2 separate regions of the Homo sapiens genome follow, and region 1 is linked to region 2. Evidence: fine-mapped expression QTL. A gene starts in region 2. The other region holds a variant in brackets. All regions are shown on one strand. Distances are between the middles of the regions.

Evidence for each region.
Region 1: its variant is fine-mapped to the expression of ZNF16 in blood mononuclear cells (TOPMed, PIP above 0.99).

Annotation. Positions count from the first base shown.
Region 1 is chr8:145,052,910-145,055,818 of GRCh38, forward strand. It overlaps C8orf33 (chromosome 8 open reading frame 33), which reads left to right. Exons shown (of 5, transcript NM_023080.3): 3 at 153-237; 4 at 388-534; 5 at 1,109-2,909. The coding sequence ends at 1,248. Among named protein-coding and RNA genes, the nearest start is that of C8orf33, 1.9 kb to the left of the region's middle. RefSeq lists an enhancer at 132-932. The variant A/C (reference allele first, on the strand shown) is at 1,440.
Region 2 is chr8:144,949,325-144,952,233 of GRCh38, forward strand. ZNF16 (zinc finger protein 16) reads right to left here and starts at 1,556. Exons shown (of 3, transcript NM_006958.3): 1 at 1,473-1,556. RefSeq lists a silencer at 1,066-1,375 and an enhancer at 1,616-1,685.

The sequences.
Region 1 (2,909 bases), 100 kb after region 2:
TTCGGTCGGGAAGGGTGGAATCCACGGGTGCGAATCCACGGGCACGTGTGATCTGGGGTCCGCGGAGTTAAGGCGGGGAGGGGCATGGGATGGGGCCGGCGGCTATGGTTTTCCAGTGCCCTCTCACAGCCACTTCCCCAAATCCATCACAGGCACAACAGTTGGCCCAGGAATTGGCTTGGTGTGTGGAGCAACTGGAGCTGGGCCTCAAGAGGCAGAAACCCACCCCGAAACAGAGTAAGGGACCCTTCTGTAGAGCTGGGGGATGTGAACAGTGGCACTGCCTGGCCTGCAGGTGCTGGCAGAGTATGGAGTTGTTGGCTTTGCGGCGGGGTGGTAGGAGGTCAGTAATAGAGGTGTTCACTAGTCCTTTATTTTTATTCGCAGAAGAGCAGGCTATTGGAGCAATCCGAACCCTGCGCAGCAAAAGAACGCCCTTGCCCCGGAAGAGGCAGCTGATGCACTCCTTGTTTGGAGACTATAGGGCTCAGATGGAAGCCGAATGGCGTGAGGCCCTGCGGGCTCTCAGAGCTGGTGAGGAGCTAGCCACTGGTTGATTCAGGAAGGCCTAACTTAAGGAGGAAGTGTCTAGGGGGTGAAAGGAAGAAGGCCCAGAGCAACAAGCCTGGTGGGGGAAGGAGATGGGCTCAGGGAAGCCTGAGGGAGCAGGGAAACAGAAAGCGTGGACCTCTCTTTCCTCTTCCTAGGACTGAACCTGGGAAGCAGCGGGGAGGCCCTGGGAGGAGTGGGAAAGAGCATGGTCCTATGTTGGTCCTGCTCCTGGGTTGGGGAAAGCTGCCTCATGTCTTTGTGTCTTGGCTTTCTCTACTAGCAATGAAGCCATATCCCATAACAGTTTGAGTGCAATTCCTGGGGCCAGATCAGCTAGGTTCAAATCCTGGATCTACCACATAGTAGTACTAACACCTTTTGCAAACTACTGAACCTCTCTAAGTGGGGGATGATAGTAATATCAACCTTACAAATTTGAGGAATTAATCAGTTAATTTATGCAAGGTGGTTAGAATTGTATGGGCAAACATAACTGTACAGGTAATGTTAATTGTTATTATTCAGTTCTGACATACGCTGCTTCTCTCCCCGACAGCTGCTTATTCAGCCCAGGTGCAACCTGTAGATGGAGCCACCAGAAAGAAGAGCCAAAGGGTCTGCAGGCCTCGCTCTATATGGAGAGCCAAAGCCACTCTGGACATGCCTGATGAAGAGTTTAGGTTCAATTTCTTTTAGCGTCTCCCCGAACCTGAAACAATCCCCCTCCCTTGGGGTGGTGTAGGGGTTTGTTTTGAGTGCAGAGCCTTTCCAGGACTTCTGTTGTCAGAGAACCCTGGAGTTGGTCTGTCCCTGGCTGGTCCAAGGATTTGTAGCTGTTGTGAAGGTGTGAGACCATCAGATAGGCAAAAGACCCCGTTCGTTTTCTG[A/C]TGAAATGTTCTCTCTTTCAGAAGAGAGAGAGAGGTGCATTTAGAAAATATGCAATAAATTGAAGTGAGTGTTCAAAGTATTGTAGAAGGAATATTGTACTCAGTCTTTAGGATTAGATTAAGTGGCTGTTGGTAACAAAGATTAGTGGAGAAGCTGTATAATCGTACACTGGTTTTCACTTTTGAAAGGAATCCCTGTCAAATGGTTTAGTGCTTAATGCTGTTATGTCATATTGCCCTAATCTCTATTTTTGATAAAATTGGATAAGGAGTGAAAGAGTATGCTGACCACCTATGTTAGAGGAAGTACAGAAGATGCAGGGGTGTGGTATCCCTGGGTCCAGTCCCTCACCTGGTACCTTTGTGCATGTTGCCTTCATTCCTGAGCAGGTATCATCCTCAGGGAACCAGCATGGCACCTACCAGGCCAGGCTCTGTTCTTAGGAGCAAGGAGCTTCTTGCGCTAACAGTTCTGGCCTGAGACCTGGATTGAGCCTTGGCAGACTTCTTGTCTAAATGTTGGCCATTCAGTCTCAGGCCCTCTGTTCCATGGAATTGGGAATCTCCAGGTGACCTAATCCTCATTGGTGGCTTGATGTTTGCTGGTATCTTCCAAACTCAGTTCCCAGACTAGATTGATACCTGGAGCCCAGCTGCCTACTCAGCATTTCCACTTGGGTGCTTCATAGGCATTTCAAACCTGATGTGTTTAAAACACTTGATTAGGCTCCGGTTTTCCTTTGGCTTCTGCTTTTCAGTGAATGGCATGACTGCCTATGTGGGTGGCAAGCCACCCAGGTGCCGAGGAAAGAGACTGAGGGCACGAGCTGTTCCAGTATAATAAAATATATAAAATAAGAAGAGTTATACTAGATCTAGATCATAGACATGATTATATGTGAGTATCATTAATCATTAGTTTATAGCAATTACTCTTTATTCCAATATTATAATAATCCTCACTCTACAATCATAACCTAGGAAAAACCAGGCCATACAGAGATAGGAGCCGAGGGGACATAGTGCGAAGTGGCCAGAAGACAAGAGTGTGAGCCTTCTCTTATGCCCGGACAGGGCCACCAGAGGGCTTGGTCTAGCAGTAACACCAGTGTCTGGGAAGATGCCTGTTGCAAAGTGGACCATGGTCTAGCAGTAGCATCAGTGTCAAGGAAAAACACCCACTACTTAGCAGACTGGGAAAAGGAGCCTCCCTTTCCCCGGGGGAGTTTAGAGAAGACTACTCCTCCACCTCTTGTGGAGGGCCTGACATCAGTCAGGCCCGCCCGCAGTTATCCAGAGGCCTGTCTCCCTGTGATGCTGTGCTTCAGTGGTCACGCTCCTAGTCCGCTTTCATGTTCCATCCTGTATACCTGGCTCTGCCTTTTAGATAGCAGGAGCAAATTAGTGAAAGTACTAAATGTCTGATATGCAGAAATAATGGCATAAGCTGTCTCTCTCTCTTCTCTCTCT
Region 2 (2,909 bases):
GAAACCCCCTTTCTCCCCCAGCTCTGCTCAGTGCATCTCTGACTTCTCATGGAACACCAGGAACCACGAACCCACCCTTGTCTCCCATGCGCTGGGAACCACCCCATCGCACTGCTGCCCCATGTAGGGAAAAGAAAGAAAGATCAGACTGTTACTGTGTCTGTGTAGAAAAGGAAGACATAAGAAATTCCATTTTGACCTGTACCTTGAACAATTGCTTTGCTGAGATGCTGTTAATTTGTAACTTTGCCCCAGCCACTTTGCCACAACTTTGAGCTCACAAAAACATGTGTTGTATGGAATCAAGGTTTAAGGGATCTAGGGCTGTGCAGGATGTGCCTTGTTAACAAAATGTTTACAAGCAGATGCTTGGTAAAAGTCATCGCCATTCTCCAGTCTCAATAAACCAGGGGCACAATGCTCTGCGATAAGCCACAGGGACTTCTGCCTTGGAAAGCCGGGTATTGTCCAAGATTTGTCCCCATGTGATAGTCTGAAATATGGCCTCATGGGATGAGAAAGACCTGACCGTCCCCCAGCCCAACGCCCGTAAAGGGTCTGTGTTGAGGTGGATTGGTAAAAGAGAAAAGCCTCTTGCAGTTGAGATAGAGGAAGGCCACTCTCTCCTGCCTGCCCCTGGGAACTGAATGTCTCGGTATAAAACCCGATTGTACATTTGTTCAATTCTGAGACAGGAGAAAAACTGCCCTATGGTGAGAGGTGAGACATGTTGGCAGCAATGCTGCCTTGTTATTCTTTACTCCACTGAGATGTTTGGGTGGAGAGAAACAAATCTGGCCTACGTGCCCATCCAGGCATAGTACCTCCCCTTAAACTTAATTATGGCACAGATTCTTTTGCTCACATGCTTTTTTTTGCTGACCTTCTCCCTATTATCACCCTGCTCTCCTACTGCATTCCTCTTGCTGAGATAATGAAAATAATAATCAATAAAAACTAAGAGAACTCAGAGACCGGTGCCGGTGCAGGTCCTTAGTGTGCCGAGTGCCGGTCTCCTGGGCCCACTGTTGTTTCTCTACACTTTGTCTTATTTCTTTTCTCAGTCTCTCGTCCCACCTGATGAGATATCCCACAGGTGTGGAAGGGCAGGCCACCCCTTCACCCCGTCGCTCCGCCCGAGCTCGAATGGTGGCACCGACAGGCGGGAACGCCACCAGCCTGTGGGCGGAGTCCTGGCTCGGCCCCTCGCGGCGACCTTACCCCGGGGTCTCCCCGGAGACCCCCTACCGGAGGCAGCCCCCAGAGGCTCTGACCTCCAGCCCAGGCCGAGCTGCCCCCGCCCCGCCCCCCCCGCGCTCCCACAACCCCCCGCGCGGCTCCGCCCCCGCCCGGGGTCCCCAGCTCGCTGCCCGCCCCGTCTGAGCCCTGAGAGGCCCCTGGGCCCCCCAACCACGGGGGCATCAGGGACAACCAGACGCAGGGTCCCAGGCGTGGAGCTTCGCGGAACTAACCTCAACGGGTCGCGCTTGGAAAGGAGGCAGCACCGTGGCACGAAGACGTCTCAGCCAACGCCGGCTGACCCCCGGAAGTCCCGCCCCGAATTCCGGCCCGCCGCTCGTTCTATCTGGGGCAGCGTAGCCTCTCTAGATGGCGGGAGGCCGGGGCGACTCTGTGGTTCAGCCCCAGACCTGGTCCCACTAGCCCTGAGGCCAGAGACCCTTCTGTTCCCCTTTTTTTCAGAGTTGACCCGTGCACTGAACAAGGCGGCAACTGAAGAAAAGGGGACACTAATAGAAATGCAGAGATAATGAGATATACTCGTGTAGTGGGAGATTTTAATATACAGGCCCCCAGAATCGGAACAGACGGTAGTTTGATAAAAACCTAAGGATACGTTTTTTGGAAGAACTGAATCATTCAATCAGTAAGTGATTAGATAGATAAATGGAAGAATTCAGATTCCTTCAGTAGATAACATGTTTTCGTGAGATTGTGCATGGATCGTTTCTAATACGGAAATGAATTGTACACTTGGACATAAAGAATACAAATAAGGCTGGGTGCGGTGGCCCACGCCTGTAATTCCAGCACTTGGGAGGCCGAGGCGGGCGGATGGCTTGAGGCTAGGAGTTTGAGACCAGCCTGGGCAATATAGGGAGACTCCATCTCTACAAAAAATACAAAAGTTAGCCAGGTGTGATGGTGTGCGCCTGTAGTCCCAGCTACTCAGGAGGCTGAGGTGGGCGGATTGCTTGAGCCGGGGAATGTGCGGCTGCAGTGAGCCGGGATCACATGTTGCACTGATGAGAGAGTGAGACCCTGTCTCAAAAAAAAGAAACAAACAACAACAACCAAAAAAAACCTCACAAATATTTTGACGTTCATTTTGCAGGCAGATTAAACTATCAAAATCAGGAATACATAATAAAAAATGCATGACAAACTCTATTGGAATTTAAGAAACACTGTCTAGATAACCCCCCCCCCTTTTTTTTTTAGTTCAGGCTGAGGTGCTCTCAGTTGGAGATGAGGAACTTATTGGAAGCTGGAGTAAAGGTCACTCTTGCTATGCTTTAGCAAAGAGATTGGTGACATTTTGGCCCTACCCTAGAGATCTGTGGAACTTTGAGCTTGAGAGAGATGATTTAGGGCATCTGGCAGAAGAAATTTCTAAGCAGCAAAGCATTCAAGATGTGACATACCTTTTTCTGAAAGTGTACAGTCATATGCATTCACAAAGAGATGGCCTGAAATTGGAACTTATGTTTATTTTTTTATTTATTTTTAATTTTTTTATTTCCATAGGTTTTTAAATTTTTATTTCCATAGGTGGTGGTGTTTGGTTACATGAGTAAGTTCTTTAGTGGTGATTTGTGAGATTTTGGTGCACCCGTCACCTGGGCGGTATGCCTTGAACCCAATTTGTAGTCTTTTATCCTTCACGCCCT